Linked DNA regions of Homo sapiens: region 2 is linked to region 1. The links come from fine-mapping of genetic effects on gene expression. A gene starts in region 1. The other region holds a variant in brackets. All regions are shown on one strand. Distances are from middle to middle. Region 1 holds the start of ENTR1 (endosome associated trafficking regulator 1). Region 2 overlaps SNAPC4 (small nuclear RNA activating complex polypeptide 4).

What was found. PIP is the estimated chance that this variant, and not a neighbour inherited with it, causes the effect. A credible set is the group of variants that fine-mapping cannot tell apart.
Region 2: its variant is the best candidate, but not a certain one, in a credible set for the expression of ENTR1 in lung (TOPMed, PIP 0.82).

Annotation. Positions count from the first base shown.
Region 1 is chr9:136,406,184-136,414,695 of GRCh38, reverse strand. It overlaps ENTR1 (endosome associated trafficking regulator 1), which reads left to right and starts at 4,082. Exons shown (of 10, transcript NM_001039707.2): 1 at 4,082-4,368; 2 at 4,457-4,606; 3 at 5,629-5,697; 4 at 6,758-6,870; 5 at 7,135-7,551. The coding sequence starts at 4,299. It overlaps PMPCA (peptidase, mitochondrial processing subunit alpha), which reads right to left and starts at 4,038. Exons shown (of 13, transcript NM_015160.3): 1 at 3,957-4,038; 2 at 2,497-2,699; 3 at 2,127-2,206; 4 at 1,804-1,886; 5 at 49-143. The coding sequence starts at 4,027. RefSeq lists enhancers at 3,800-3,849, 3,880-3,969, 4,820-4,979, 7,185-7,773 and silencers at 4,180-4,269, 4,410-4,459.
Region 2 is chr9:136,384,615-136,392,614 of GRCh38, reverse strand. It overlaps SNAPC4 (small nuclear RNA activating complex polypeptide 4), which reads left to right. Exons shown (of 24, transcript NM_003086.4): 9 at 21-93; 10 at 509-673; 11 at 4,024-4,171; 12 at 4,767-4,873; 13 at 5,036-5,130; 14 at 7,801-7,895. Among named protein-coding and RNA genes, the nearest start is that of SNAPC4, 12 kb to the left of the region's middle. The variant G/A (reference allele first, on the strand shown) is at 4,676.

The sequences.
Region 1 (8,512 bases):
TTCCCTATGTCCAAGCCCACCTCAAACGCCAGCGGCTGGGATCCACACCTGTTAGCCGGGGCTGCAGAACCACATCAGCCAGTAAGGCAACCACCGTGTCCAAGCCTTTGCTATCAGCAGACACAGCATACATGGTGGTGTCTCTGGAAGAAAACACAAGCCCATAATGCCAGGCCCTGAACTCACACTCTGCTTAACAGCCAGGGGACGCTCGGGCTTTGCGTGCCAGGTGGACAATGCCAGGCCCTGAGCTCACACTCTGCTCAACAGCCAGGGGACACTTGGGCTTTGCATGCCAGGGGCACCTACCTTTTGTTGGGGCCCAGCAGACATTTCAGGGACGCTTGGGCTTTGCGTGCCAGGGGACACCTCCTACCCTTCATCGGGGAACAGCAGACACTTTTCCCCTTTCTCTTTTCCTGTCTTACAGTGTGAATGCTTGGTAGGCAGGACTCACAGCTACACACAGCTTGAGTCAAAATGGAGCCACTTCTGATACAGATTTTTGTAACTATACTCTCTCTCAAAAGGTGAAGTGTTTCATCCCAGCCTCCTGTTGACTGAACGAACCCACTGGTGAGTGTGGAAACATGCCCGGCCTTGGCTGGCTTGGGGGACAGCAATGGCTGGCTCGTATGGAGCTTGTCTCACTGTAACATCTGTTCCCGGCATGAGGCACTGCACAGTCAGAAGTGCACAGAGCTGGCCCATGGGACAGGCACGAAATCATGGGGTGCTCTGAGATCAAGTGTGATCAAGGGAGACCATGCAGAGCAGACGCAACAGCCACGAAGAAGAGGGAGCTTGGGAGGCAGGACGCAGTCACCAGTGCCTCTGAAGAGGGGACTTGGCTGGACCTTCACCCTGAAGAGGAGCCATTCTCAGTGACTTTGGCTCTCCACATGGGGAGAATGGCAAGAACAAAAGCCTGAGCTGAGGGCGAGGGGGGCTGGGTCTGAGTCAGGACACCAGCCACCTGGCCAGAGAAAGGAGTTCATCTGGGATGAGTGAGATTCGAGGCAAGAGTCGGAGAATCAAACACACCAGGCAGGAACCTGGCAGGGGCAGCTGGGAGTCAGGGGGTATTAAGAGGCCTTGTTTTAGAACATGAATATGTTACCTCCAAGCTAACTTTAATTCTTAGCATTTAATGTGTCTTTTATGTGTAATTTTTTTAGCATTCAAACTTAAATCAACAATTTTAAAAATCTGTGATCTATATTCACCCATCTCACATTGCCCAGTGCTTTCTGAACAAGCTCCACACCTGGCATGCAAAGACCACTGCACTGTGCTCGAGGCAACACTGCCCCCTCCCTCCACCAAGCAGCCGGCACCTCCCTGGCTCGGTGCCTTTTGCCCCTGCTGTCTCCTGGTCTGGAATGCCTTGTGCCCCGTGTGTCTAGCAAACTCCTTCTGGAACCAGCCCAACCCTGCATTTCCTATGATTCCTTTCCCAACTCCAGACCAAGTCAGCCACTCATCCTCCTGGCTCCTACCGCCTTTGGCTACGGGGTCCATTACGTATGCAAGGCCCTCTGCTCTATCTGGGAACAGGGCCTGCTCTACATCCCTGGCATGCAGCCAACAGCCTGGAGGAACTGACGGGGGTCAACTGAGCTCCTGGGGGCTGTGCTTCTCTGTGTAAGCGCCATCCACCCAAGTCTCCATCCAGGACAGGGCTCCTTCTCCCCGTGAATCTCCACACCTCCCGCTGGGAGGGGCTCAGAGGGAATCTGAGCAACGACAAGAACGTCAGTTCCCAAGGACCCAAAGTCAGTTTGTACACAAAAGCTGGTGTACCTTGATGTCTGGCAGTCACAGATACCCCCATGCTTTTCCAACGTAAGCAGAATTTCATCTTTGCTGTCAAATCGAGCAGTAGACTAGTAAAAATAAATAAGGAAACCTAAATAAGCAATCCAGGCTATCCCTGAAACACAATTTTTTTTTAAAATCTACTTTTGCTTTTAACACACATACAAAAATTATCTTTTAACTTAAAAGTCTTTTATTAACATTAACTTAGCAACTTGATAATTTATTAAAATAACCATTATAGACAAGAAAAATCTCAAACATCCTTCAAAAGTATAGTCTAAAAAATTACAAAACTGGGTACTGACCGAAAATGCCAATTTTTCCAAAAAGTGAGCAATTCCACTAAGGTATTTCGCTTCATATCTCGATCCTGAATTGATAAGAACTAGTAGTAAAAAGAAAATTGACAGGTTACATCAGATATTCAAAATAAGATTTAATCAAGAGAAACATTTTAAGATGTCAATATGACATGATAATCAGATTTAATTACATGAGGGTGATTGTGCTGATGGTTTCACAGGTATATGTGTAGCTCAACATTTATGAAATCGTACACTTTGTTTCCACTCAGGGTACAATTCATAATTGGCATGCTAATTACAACTAACAGTCAACTAAAGCATGTGCATGTTAAAACTGCGGGACCACCCACGACAACACAACAGTACTTACTTCCTACTGTACAAAACTGTCCAAACTTATTCTGAGATGCCACGCGAAGCCCATTATCCAATGTGGTTACTTTGGTTTCAAACTTTTCCTGTCCATCAACTGTAGCAAAAACAGGCTTGGGTACTCCAGGTAAGGGAGAAGAGAGGGGGATGTTGGGATAGGCACCACCACTACTAAACCGTCTGTACGCAGGAGGTCCAAACCTAAAACAGAGAAAGCGGCCCAGTTACAACAGGCTTGAGACAACAAACCTGTGATGACCTGTTAGGTGCGGTTAGTTATGTTTTGTCTGGGTTAAAAGTGAGCATCTGCCTTTCTACAGGACTTATTTCTACAGACTTTGGAAGACAAAGCAGAGGCTGACAACAAAGGCTCAGCCACGGGACCTGGAGCAAGCTGGTTCCGTCCTTTGGGTCTTAGTTGCTATCTCTGTAAAAACAGGGCTTATTAACAGTAACTCACTCTAAGTGCAGTTTGTACACATAAAGCACTTAACAGCTCTGCCCTCCAACAGCACCACCGAAGTCTTGGATAAAAGCCATATCCCTTATTAACCTGGTCCGAAGGCGGGGTGTGACTTGGCCTCTGTCTCCCTCTCCAAACTCATCTCTTGAACCCCCACACTCCCATAGGTCCTGGTCACACTGATTCTTGTCAATTCCTGGAACACATTTGACTCATCAACCCCAAAGCTTCTTCACCGTTCCAGGGCTTGCCCTTTGCCCATGCCTACCCCTTCTTTCATTCTTCAGCTCTTCCCTTAAATGTCACCCTGATGGAGGACTATCCCTCACCAGTCTAGTCTTTCCTGCTATTTTCTATCATGAAAGGCTGCTTGTTTACTCCAAAGCATTTACGCGACTGCCGATATTTTGTTTACGCTCCAGCCTGTATCCATCTCCTGGAGGCAGCACCTCCGCACCCCTGAAACGGCGCTCGTTGTGTGGGGAGGGGCGACGCCTGTGCTGTCGGAACAAAGTTCCAGCGTGGGGAAAGGCAGGCCCGGTCACTTGGGTGGGAGGAGCGGTGGGTACGGAAAGGGTTCTTAAACGTCAGAGATCAACGGACAGACCGCAGCAACCGAGAGCCTGGACCCTGGTGTCAGAACCCTGCGGGTCTAACAGAGCTGGGCCCCCACCGGCTCAGCCTCCTGAAGGAGCACGCGGTAGGTGAAGCGCGGGGGCAAATATGAGGCATGGCCTCGGAGAAGGCCCGTCGACCCGGGAAGTGAGGGGGGGAGAGGACCCAGCAGCCGGGGAGAGGAGAGACAGATGGGACTGCGTCCCCGGGCTCGAGGCGCAAAGCAAGGCAGGGCCCCCGTCGCCTCGGGGACACCAGTGTCCCGAAGTGCGAGCCCGTCCCACGGGCGCCATGTCACCTGTAGAAACCGAAGACGGAGCGTCCAGAAAGACTCGAGCCGCCCCCGCCCCAGGCCGAAGCCTGGTTCGCCTTTGGCTCACCTCAGCCGCGAACAGCCCCAAGAACCCGAGCCCCGCAGCAACCGCGTCGCCGCCAGCACCACAGCCGCCATCTTGCGTCTCCGCCCCGCTTCAGTCGTCACTTCCGCTTCCGCCCACGGCTTCCCCTCCCCCTCGCCGACGGCCCAAGGCGTTCAGGCACGCGCTTTCGGTGCTCGGAGCGGAAGCAGCGGCGAGAGGCTCGGAGGCGCGGGGGCGGCCGAGCGGCGGGCGACGGGGGCGGGCGACGGGGGCGGGCGACGCGGGCCGCGGCACGGGCGGAGCCGGGGCCATGGAGCCGCCGCTGCCGGGCTAGGCAGGTCGTGCCCCGCCGGGCCGGCGGCGATGTCGGGCTACCAGCGCCGCCCGGGCGCCACCCCGCTGTCCCGAGCCCGGAGCCTCGCCATTCCCGACGGTGAGCGGGGCAGGGGCCGAGTCCAGCGGTCCAGGTGGGCGGCGGCCGCCCCGGCACGCAGTAAAGTCGCTGTTGTCGTTGCTTCCAGCTCCAGCGTTCTATGAGCGCCGGTCTTGTCTCCCCCAGCTAAATTGTGAGCGCCCCCATGGCAGGGACCTGGACTCCCCCTTCTTCGGCATTCGGCCGGCCTTTATGTGCTATGTGCCCAGCCCGGTGCTGGCTTCCGTGGGAGACACAGGTGAGAGACGAGGGCGCCGGCCCCGGGGACGCTTCCAGTTCCCGCGCCACGTGTGGCACCTCCGCTGCAGCACGAGCTCGTCCATTGACCCATCAATGTGCAGAGCGCTCACTGCGTGCCAGGCACTCGGAATTCAAAGGCGGAGTCCCCTGCTAGGAGCTCACAGTCTGGTTGCGGGGAGACCTCCCCCAAGACAGACAGTTCCAGTACAGGATGGTTAGTGCCCGGGGAGCACAGGAGCCCGCCCGCTTTCCTCGTGGGGCTGGAGTCGGGGTGCCTTCACCTAGTGGGCAGTGATTGGAAACCGAGCTGGAGCATTCCATCTGCCTCCACAGCCGGGCAGTGGCCAGATCTGGTTCGTCCTCGTTCTACCCAAGCAGAAGTGCTGCTGGGTGCCCGGGGTGTGCAGGAGTGTTTGTGTGGTTATGCCAGGATCTGAGGACATTCGGGGGTTGTCACAAGACAAGAGGACGCGCTTGCCCCGGCTGGGCTTCAAAATCTGCTGAGGAGCCGCTTTCAGACCACGGACACCAGGGCCAGTCTGCAAGTCAGGCCATCTCCAGGGTCACAAGTCTGGGAGCTTGTGTTTTTTTTAAAGTTTTCTCGGCTGACCGGGCGCAGTGGCTTACGCCTGTAATCCCAGCACTTTGGGAGGCCGAGGCAGGCGGATCATGAGGTCAGGAGATTGAGACCATCCTGGCTAACAGGGTGAAAACCCGTCTCTACAAAAAATACAAAAAAATTAGCCGGGCGTGGTGGCAGGTGCCTGTAGTCCCAGCTACTCGGGAGGATGAGGCAGGAGAATGGCGTGAACCCAGGAGGCGGAGCTTGCAGGGAGCCGAGATCGCACCACTGCACTCCAGCTTGGGCGACAGAGCAAGACTCCGTCTCAAAAAAAAAAAAAAAGTTCTCTAGACTGTGAGAACCACTGCAGTGGAGACTCCATGTGCAAAAGAAAAAAACCAAATGTGAGGTCATAAAGACTTCCTGCCAGCATGGTGGGTGACATTGTTTCTTTGCAGATTTTGGCTATGGAAAGGGGAAATGTTCTAAGCAGAGCCCGTCAGGAGCCCACGGGACACATTTTGGAGGTAGAGTAGTTCAGCAACCTTTTCTTCTTGTCTCCATCCAACACAGTGCCAGGCACGTGTCTGGTGGGACTGTCAATGTGACTGGCTATGTGGTGTAGCTGGAGCCCAAAAGAGCAGGTGGGGGTGGGATTTCAAGGGTTCAGTCTTGATCCTAGAGTAGCAGCGAGGTGACATCAGGGAGCGGGGAAGCCCCACCTGGGGGGCTGGGGCCACAGGAGCCAGCTTTACATGGGGCTCACAGCTGGGAGGGTCGAGTGTGGCTGCTTAAGTCCCCGGAGGGTGGGAAGGCGGTGGCAAGAGGGAGAAGGGAAAAGTGGGCGTTATTTAGGCTACCTAGGTAGGAAAGTCGGGAAGAGGGTCAGGGGGCACTGGGTCCCCAGCGTTGCAGCACCTGAGGAGCTGGTTGTTGTTGTTGTTTTTTGAGACAGAGTCTCGCTCTGTCGCCCAGGCTGGAGTACAGTGGCACGATCTCGGCTCACTGCAAGCTCCACCTCCCAGGTTCACGCCATTCTCCTGCCTCAGCCTCCCGAGTAGCTGGGACTACAGGCGCTCACCACCACGCCTGGCTAATTTTTTGTATTTTTAGTAGAGATGAGGTTTCACCGTGTTAGCCAGGATGGTCTCAGTCTCCTGACCTCGTGATCCGCCCGCCTTGACCTCCCACAGTGCTGGGGTACAGGCGTGAGCCACCACACCTGGCCACCTGAGGAGCTTTGAGAGCTCCTAGCACAGGTTGACCTCACACCAGGGAGCTGGGTGTGTGCAGTGGAGTGGCTTGGGTCGTTTTAAAGCTCCCCAGGGGAGCTTTAGTGAGCAGCACAGTGTGGGAGCAGGGGCCGAGGGGTGGAAGGAGAAGATTGCAAATGCAGACGCACGTCTGTGTCACTGCCCACCTTCAGCCACCTTCACACTTCCTAGTGCTGCCTGAGTCATGGTAGAATGACAAGCGTGGCTGCCCGATCTCACATGTGGCCATGCTCTGGAAAGACAGGTGAACAGGAAGGTTCCCTTTCAACGCTCTTCAGTAGACTTTATGCATTTGTGATGTCTGTTATTTCAGATGACAGATTTGAAGATCTGGAAGAGGCAAATCCATTCTCTTTTAGAGAGTTTCTGAAGACCAAGAACCTCGGCCTCTCGAAAGAGGATCCGGCCAGCAGAATTTATGCAAAGGTAAATCCACGGCACTGTGGGCGATGGCTCTGTGGGACGTTTCTGTTCCGGCCTCTGCAGCCTCCTTTGGAGGAATCGTGCATGAGTGTGGCAGAGCAGGCAGGCGTCAGTGCTGGGGAGCAGCTCTGGGCTCAGAAGCTGCTGGGCTCCTTCCGGTAGAGAGATTGGGCCTTTCTTCTTGTTGCGAGGCAGAACACAGAAAGGAAGATGCGCTCCGAGTCAGAAGCATGGCCTCCATTGTTTTTTTTTTTTTTTTTTTTTTAGGAAGCCTCGAGGCATTCCCTGGGACTTGACCACAACTCCCCACCCTCCCAAACCGGCGGGTATGGCCTGGAGTATCAGCAGCCATTTTTCGAGGATCCGACAGGGGCTGGTGACCTCCTGGATGAGGAGGAGGATGAGGACACCGGATGGAGTGGGGCCTACCTGCCGTCCGCCATCGAGCAGACTCACCCCGAGAGGGTCCCTGCCGGCACGTCGCCCTGCAGCACATACCTTTCCTTTTTCTCCACCCCGTCGGAGCTGGCAGGGCCTGAGTCTCTGCCCTCGTGGGCGTTGAGTGACACTGATTCTCGCGTGTCTCCGGCCTCTCCGGCAGGGAGTCCTAGCGCAGACTTTGCGGTTCATGGAGAGTCTCTGGGAGACAGGCACCTGCGGACGCTGCAGATAAGTTACGACGCAGTAAGTGAGCCTCACGGCGCCCTCTGGCACAGCGCCTGTCCGAGCGGCTTCTCCCGGGGAGAACCTGGAGCCATCCTACCTCTTGGGTGGCCTGGTTTGATTTCCAGGACAAGGCGATTTGCGTGACAGCCTGCTATCCACTTTCCCTTTGACTTTGCTTCTGGTTACACGTGGGAATAGAACCGGCTAAAGAGGACTGGTGAGCTAGAAGCTGTGAATTGGATGCAGTTGGGCACTTACAGGGCTGTACCCTCAGTAAAGGCAGGCTGCAGTCGCCAGCTTGCTAAGTATTCCAAGAGGAGGAAAATTTTTAAAAAATTATAATCACCTAAAAGGTTATAAGCTCTGAATAAAAAAAAAAATTTTTTAGCTGGGCGCCGTGGCTCACGCCTGTAATCTCAGCACTTTGGGAGGCCGAGGTGGGTGGATCACCTGAGGTCAGCAGTTTGAGACCAGCCTGGCCAACATGGTGAAACCCTGTCTCTACTGAAAATACAAAAATTAGCTGGGCGTGGCGGCAGGCGCCTGTAGTCCCAGCTACTTGGGAGGCTGAGGCAGGAGAATCGCTTGAACCCGGGAGGCGGAGGTTGCGGTGAGCCGAGGTCACGCCACTGTACTCCAGCCTAGGCGACGGGCGAAACTCTGTTTCAAAAAAAAGAAAAATTATTTTCTTCCTGAGACAGTGTCTCACTCTGTTGCTCATGCTGGAGTGGAGTGGCACGATCTCGGCTCACTGCAACCTCCGCCTCCCGAGTTCAAGTGATTCTCCTGCTTCAGCCACCCGAGTAGTTAGGACTACAGGTGCCCGCCACCACTGCTGGCTAATTTTTGTATTTTTAGTAGAGACGGGGGTTTCACCGTGTTGGCCAGGCTGGTCTCAAACTCCTGACCTTGTGATCCGCCCACCTCGGCCTCCCAAAGTGCTGGGATTACAGGCGCGAGCCACTGCCCCCGGCCTCTG
Region 2 (8,000 bases), 22 kb after region 1:
ACCCTCATCCCTTCCACCAGCCAGCTTCCAGAAGAGGCCTTGCTGGGAAACAGGCTGGACAGCCACGACTGGGAGAAGATTTCCAATATTAACGTAAGTCAGGGGCAGGTCTGAGCCCCAAGCAGCTTGGAGCACAGCTCCCTGTAGCCCGGGTGCAGTTGGAATTGGGTGGTAAGGCCACACCCTCCCTGGCAACAGGTTCTGCTGTGACCCCCCACCCACCCGGGTCAAGCACATGTCCCACAGTCGGGAATGGCGAGTGGACTCACGAGGGCCTTCAGGCTGGTGCACGGCCCTTTCTGAGATGGTCTGGAGGGCTCCCGGCCTTGCATCTGGAGCCAAGTCTACATGTTTGGCTATGCAAGGCCTAGTGAGTTGGACGAAGATTGCGCTTACTTGCAGCCGTGGAAGCCTCCAGCTGGCGGAGAGCAACAGCTCAGCCTGGAGCTGCGTCTAGGGTGCCCCTGGGGTCAGTGGCCTGCAAGGCTGAGTGTCTCTGTCGGTGCAGTTTGAAGGCAGCCGCAGTGCAGAGGAGATCCGGAAGTTCTGGCAGAACTCGGAGCACCCCAGCATCAACAAGCAGGAGTGGAGCAGGGAGGAGGAGGAGCGGCTGCAGGCGATCGCGGCTGCACACGGCCACCTGGAGTGGCAGAAGATTGCAGAGGAGCTGGGGGTAAGGGCCTGGCCTGGACCCCAGGGGCCAGGAGACCTGAGGGCGTGTGGGCCCTATAGCGGGAGGCTGCTGGACGGGTGCGGGGTCCCCAGTGCTCACTCACCGCCAGGTTTCTATGTGTTGCCACCTCCAGGCTGTGGCCCTAGGGAAGGAGCCTGCCCAGCCCTCTCTGCCACTAGGCCATTGCCGCAGCTCCTCTGGGCCTTCCCAGTCCTCCAGGTCTCCCCATGCAGCGGTGCATGCCCAGTTTACCGGAGTTTGTCTCCTTTCTTATTTCTAGTCTTCTTCTGTCTCCATCAGCCTCGGGAGTTTATTCTGTTGATGTTTCTAAAGCGCTTTTTCCTCGTGTGAGTTCTTGCCGCTTTTCTGGTTTCCTGAGTAAGGACTCAGTTCTTTACTGACTTGGGTCTCTTGTCTTGATAACGAGGCTTGTTAGGCCACCCTGAGAGTAGCTTGGCGTGAACTCTTCTTCTCATAGATTTCCAAAGTAGCTCTAGTTTCCATTTTTATTGCCTCTTTGGACCTAGGTGTATCTAGGAGTGTATGTTTCCGTTTTTAAATAGTTGGATTTCTGGGAGTTCTTGTGGTGGTTCTTTATCTGAATTTGATTGGAACATGAACTAGGGGCGAGATGTATAAAATCTCCATTTTTCAAATATATTTTACTTTTTTATGGCAGAGCACCTGATTATAGCAGACCCAGCTAAACTTGCCAAAACTGTTTTTAAGAAAAAGGTATGTTCTCTGTAAGTAGGGCCTACTCTATATCAGCTATTAAATTGAGTTTGCCTTTAAAGATGCTTAATTCTGCCGGGCACAGTGGCTCACCCCTGTAATCCCAGCACTTTGGGAGGCCGAGGCTGGCGGATCACCTGAGGTCGGGAGTTCAAGACCAGCCTGGCCAACATGGAGAAACCCCGTCTCTACTAAAAATACAAAATTAGCCGGGCGTGGTGGCGGGCATCTGTAGTCCCAGCTACTCGGGAGGCTGAGGCAGGAGAATGGCGTGAACCCGGGAGGCGGAGCTTGCGGTGAGCGGACGTCGCGCCACTGCACTCCAGCCTGGGCGACAGCAAGACTCCGTCTCAAAAAAAAAAAAAATAAATAAATAAATACAAATCGGTTTTTCTTCTATGTATATTTTACTGCTACATAGTTTGGTACACATAACTTTTTTTAATCGGGGTCTGCTTTCTTTTTTTCTTTTTTGTTTTTCATATTTTTTGAGTTCAGGGCTGTGTGTGCAGGATGTGCAGTTTGGTTCCGTAGGTGAGCGTGTGCCATGGTGGTTTGTTGCATAGATCAGCCCATCACCCAGGGATTCAGCCCAGCTTGCGTTAGCTCATTAGCTCTTTTTCTTTCCTTTTTTTTTTTTTTTTTTTTTTTTCAAACAGAGTCTCACTCTGTCGCCCAGGCTGGAGTGCAGTGGCACGATCTCAGCTCACCGCAAGCTCCGCCTCCCGGGTTCACGCCATTCTCCTGCCTCAGCCTCCCGAGTAGCTGGGACTACAGGCGCCCACCACCACGCCCGGCTAATTTTTTGTATTTTTAGTAGAGACGGGGTTTCACTGTGTTAGCCAGGATGGTCTCAGTCTCCTGACGTTGTGATCTGCCGGCCTCAGCCTCCCAAAGTGCTGGGATTACAGACGTGAGCCACCGCGCCCGGCCCATCCCTGTATTTTCAGCCTTTTAACAAATCGTCATTTCCAAGTGTTTTCATGAAAGCAGCGTGCAGCTGGGTTTTGCTTTCCCACCCGCCTGACCAGCCTCTGGCTTTGTGGGAGGGTGGGTGTTCCTGGTGTCCTCCTGGGTCTGGTGTGTCGAGTCCGTTTTACTTTGTGGCCTCTTTTCCTTCCACTCTGTCTTGCTGGTTTGATGAAACTGTAAGTCCGGTTTTTCTCCTTGTGATTTTTGGGAATTCAACTGTCTTCCATCCATTAATGGCTTTTTCTCCTTCGAACACATAGTCAGACATGCTTCTCTGTTAATATCAGAAAGCGTGACGCCAGCACTTTCCCCCGCCAGATTCTTTCTCCTTCCAGGGAAGTGTTTTTAGTCACTGTCAAGAAAAGCCAGGCTAAGGCCTCAGCAGCCTCCCTCCAGCTTCACTCCAGCCACCCTCCAGCCCCCTTTGAGAGCTGCTGCTCTCAGCTACCCGAGCAGGGCCCAGCTCTGAATCCCGCCCCACCCCCCAGTCCTTTGCCTTCCCAACTCCTTCGGCAGGCTTGGGATGGGTGTGAGAAGGGTCTCTCTTTCCACTGGTTGGGAAGCGCCAGCTTGAGTGTAGGAGGACGGGTGAGGCCTTGAGTGTGTTATGTTCCCAGAAGCACTCTCTTGGGGGCGTGCGGGCGAGGCTCACACACGTTGACTAGGATTGCCCTGCAGCTTGCACACCCCGGGGTGGTGGTTTTGTTTGTGGTGAACGAGTCTCAGATAGACCTGTGATGTAGCGAGCTGGGAAGGACTTGGTGGGGAAGAAAGCCTTGGAAGCAAAACTCACAGCTCAGCGGCACCACATCCAGCTCTGCGTGCCCTCTGCCACCCAGCAGCTCACTTTCAGAAAAAGCAAACCTCACAGCACGTCCAGCCCCACGCGCCCTCTGCCACCCAGCAGCTCACTTTCAGAAAAAGCAAACCTCAGAGCATATCTAGCCCTGTGTGCCCTGTGCCACCCAGCAGCTCACTTTCAGAGAACAGGGTTCAGGTAGCACTCATCAGCTCTTGGAAAACCCCTTGAGAAGATGAGTGAGGAAAAGATTTGGGCAGATGGTCCACTGTGTGGACTGAGGGTGGGTTTGCTGAGCCGAGCCACACAGGGAAGCTGGGAGAGTCATTTTGGGGCACTCTCTTCTGAGGGCGTCTCCTGAGACATGGACACCAAACCAAGGGCTGTCCCGTACCTCCTCCACCCCATACCCCTTAGCTGAGAGATACTCTAGAGCTCGAGAAGGGAGAGAAGGTGCTAGCAACTGCATTTAGAGAGCATGCCACATGCAGAGCAGTGCGTCTCCCAGCCCTTGCCAAGCTGGGAGTTTCTGTTGAGTGAGTTGCAGTGTGGTTTTGGAGTCATATCAGTTTACCTATTGTGAATTTTTCTTAATATTTTCTTAAGTGAAGGTTTGATTCCTCTCTCACCTGGTCCTTCCTGGTCCTATTTAGTGAGTGTATTGTCTTCCTACCGTGGGGTGCTCTCCATCAGCCCACAGGAGTCTGGGAGGAGGAGAGCTGGGGTCTGCAGAAGGGTCACCCCAGTGGCTCATGGGCCCACCTGTGCCCTGGGGCACTCAGAGCCAGATCTGGACATCCTGCCGCGCAGTAACACTCATTTGCTTTTGTTTGGGCCTGGGAAGACCAGCCGCAGCGCCTTCCAGTGCCTGCAGAAATTCCAGCAGCACAACAAAGCTCTGAAACGCAAGGAGTGGACAGAGGAGGAGGACCGCATGCTCACGCAGCTGGTGCAGGAGATGCGCGTCGGCAGCCACATCCCCTACCGCAGAAGTGAGGCCCCTCCACCCCGACGGCTCTCAGGCTGTCACAGGGCCCCATATCAGGACACTGGAGACTTGCAGGGAAAATTCACAGAGAAGCAACAAGACAGACGAGGGCTTAGACAGTCCTGGCTGTTCCACAGTTCGCTTCTTGGTGACTCAAGTGACTTTTTTTTTTTTTTTTTTGAGATGGAGTTTCACTCTTGTTGCCCAGGATGGAGTGCAACGCCATGATCTTGGCTCACTGCAACCTCTGCCTCCCGGGTTCAAGCGATTCTCGTGCCTCAGCCTCCCAAGTAGCTGGGATTACAGGCATGCGCCACCACGCCCAGCTAATTTTGTATTTTTAGTAGAGACGGGGTTTCACCATGTTGGTCAGGCTGGTCTCGAACTCCTGACCTTAGGTGATCCGCCAGCCTCTGCCTCCCAAAGTGCTGGGATGACAGGCATGATGCCACTGCACCTGGCCAAAGTGATTCTTTTCTATGTGACCCATCTGGAGGGTGGGTGTCTC[G/A]GCCCCACGGGACCCTGTTGTCCCTAGCTGTCTACTCTATGGAGGGTGTGTGTCTCGGCCCCACAGGACCTCCCTGTTCCTCTGTCCCTAGTTGTCTACTATATGGAAGGGAGAGACTCCATGCAGCTGATCTACCGATGGACCAAGAGCTTGGATCCTGGTCTGAAGAAGGGTTACTGGGCCCCGGAGGAAGATGCTGTAAGTGTGCGGGACCCTAGGAGAACTGGGCTCTGGGAAGGTAACGCGGCTGTGTTCAGCGGCTGCTGTGCCCCAGTGGTCCCTTCTCTGACTGGGTTCAGGGTGGGGAGGCTGCAGCCGTACCTGCAGAGGCTTCACTTGTCTGCCTGTCCCTTCCTGCAGAAGTTGCTTCAAGCTGTTGCCAAATACGGGGAGCAGGATTGGTTTAAAATCCGGGAAGAGGTGCCAGGTAGGAGCGATGCCCAGTGCCGAGATCGGTGAGTCGCACAGCGCTGAGCGAGGGAGGGGCCCGTGTGGGTCACTGACCAGGTGCACTCTGGTGTGGGCTGTGGGCGGGCTGGGGGACAGCGGCCAGCGCTGGGCGAGGGAGGGGCCCGTGTGGGTCGCTGACCAGGTGCACTCTGGTGTGGGCTGTGGGCGCTTGCTTGCCAGGGTTGGCCCGGCTGAGCTGTGTTTTCCAAGCCTGACTTCTGTATTGCTGTCTGCCGGAGCAACGCATGGGCTCCACTTGAGACAGCTCCCTGGGCGGCTTTTCCTGACCCTAGTTGTCTCAGTTCTCTCAGAATGCTGATAGGCAGGACCTCTGGGCACACAGCTGCAGCTCCCTCCTTTTCCTGCTTATTTTCCTTTCAAAAACAGCTTCGTTGAGATAATTCACACACCATGCGATGCGTTCATTTAAAGTGTATATTTCCGAAGCTGGGCGCAGTGGCTCACGCCTGTAATCCCAGTACTTTGGGAGGTCAAGGCAGGCGGATCACTTGAGGCCAGGTCAAAACCCCGTCTCTACGAAACCCCATCTCTACTAAAAGCACAAAAGTTACCCGGGCATGGTGGGGGTGGCGCCTGTAATCCCAGCTACTTGGGAGGCTGAGGCAGGAGAATCGCTTGAGCCTGGGAGGTGGATGTTGCAGTAAGCTGAGATCACGCCACAGCACTCCAGCCTGGGTGACAGAGCAAGACTGTCTCAAAAAAATATTAATTAATTAATTAAAATGAAGTGTAGAAGGCCAGGTTCAGTGGCTCACGCCTATAATCCCAACACTTTGGGAGGCCGAGGCCGGCGGATCACCTGAGGTTGGGAGTTTGAGACCAGCCTGACCAACATGGAGAAACCCCGTCTCTACTAAAAATACAAAATTAGCCGGGCGTGGTGGCACATGCCTGTAATCCCAGCTACTCGGGAGGCTGAGGCAGGAGAATCGCTTGAAACTGGGAGGCGGAGGATGCAGTGAGCCGAGATCACGCCATTGCACTCTAGCCTGGGCGACGAGTGAAACTCCGTCTCAAAAAAAAAAAAAAAAAAATGAAGTGTAGAGGTAGAGGTCAGTGGTTTTTAGTATTTAGTATTCATTGAGCTGTGCAGCCATCACCACAATCAATTGTAAAACATTTCATCACCCGAAAAAGCCATTCAACGACAAAAACAACCCAATCTAATCGCGGGCAAAGAACTTGAGTGGCCGTCTCTCCAAAGAAGATGCACAGATGGCCAGTGAGCACATGAAGAGATGCCTGGCGCCATGAGTCATTAGGGAAGTGCAAGTCAAAACCACACACGCGTTGGGATGGCTGTTAATTAAAAAAAAAAAAAAGTCACCGTGTTGGCAAGGATGTCGAGAAATTGAAACCTTTGTGCGTTGTAAAATGGTCCAGCCTCTTTGGAAAGCATGGCAGTTCGTCAGCGAGTTAAACATAGAATTATACCCCCAAGATTGATAAGCATAAAACCCAAAAGAATCGAAAGTAGGAGCTCAGATACAACAATGTCCACAGCAGCATCATTCACAAGAGTGAAAGGCCGGAAGCAGCCCAAGCATTCATCAGCAGATGAGTGGAAAATAAAATTTTCATACAAGGGAATATTATTCGGCCTTAAAAAGGGGTTGGCAGGGCTCGGTGGCTCACGCCTGTAATCCTAGCACTTTGGGAGGCCAAGGCGGACAGATCATGAGGTCAGGAGTTCAAGACCAGCCTGGCCAATATGGTAAAACCCTGTCTCTACTAAAAATACAAAAACTAGCCACACATGGTGGTGGGCACCTGTAATCCCAGCTACTCGGGAGGCTGAGGCAGGAGAATCACTTGAACCTGGGAGTTGGTGGTTGCAGCGAGCTGAGATTGCGCCACTGCACTCCAGCCTGGGCGACAGTGAGCCTCCGTCTCAAAAAAAACAAAAGGGGGGGGAGTGGGATTCTCATATAAATACCGCGTTTCTGTAAATTCTGATACAACATGGATGAACCCTGAAAACATTCTGAACATTTGCTTGCACTTTTTTACATAGATATCTGTTTATTTCTCTCAGCTATATCCTGCGAGTGAAATTGCTCGGTCCGGGTAACGCTGTGTTTAACCTTTTGAGGAATGGCCAGACTGTTTCCCAAAGAGGTTGAACCATTTCGTATTCCCACTAGGAATGTATGAGGGCTCCGGTTTTCCACACTCTCACCAGCACTTGTGATCTGTCTGTGATTCTAGCCATCTTAGCGGGTGTGAAGTGGTGTCTTGTGGTTTTGACGTGCGCTTCCCTGTGGCTGATGTGGAGCCTCTTTTCATGTGGTTGGTGACTGTTCATAGAAATAGGTTTTTAGAGAAGTGTCTGTTGAAGTCCTTTGCCCATTTTTGACATTACTTGTCTAGTTATGACTGACTTGTAAGAGTTCTTCATATGTTTCAGATATAAGTCCTTTATCGGACACGTGACTTGCAAACGTTCTCTCCCAGCCTGTACACTTTCTACTTTTTTGATGGTGTCCTTTGGGACACAAAAGCTTTAGCTTTTGATGAAGTCTACTTTATCTGTAGTTTTCTTTTGTTGCTTGCGCCTTTAGTGTCATATCCAAGAAACCATTAAAGAAGCTTGGGGCAGCAGCGGGCGGCGTCTCGGCATCTAAAACGTTCTTTGCTTTTCATGTCACGTTCAGGTATCTCAGGAGATTACATTTCAGCTTGAAAAAGGGTCGGTGGAATTTAAAAGAAGAGGAACAGTTAATTGAATTAATAGAAAAATATGGTGTCGGTAAGTTGCTGACAGTTTGTTCTTCTAGTTTCTTTTTTTTGTTTTTTGTTTCTTAGAAAAGAGATCAAGATAAAGACAGAGCAAGCTCTGTCGTCCAGGCTGGGG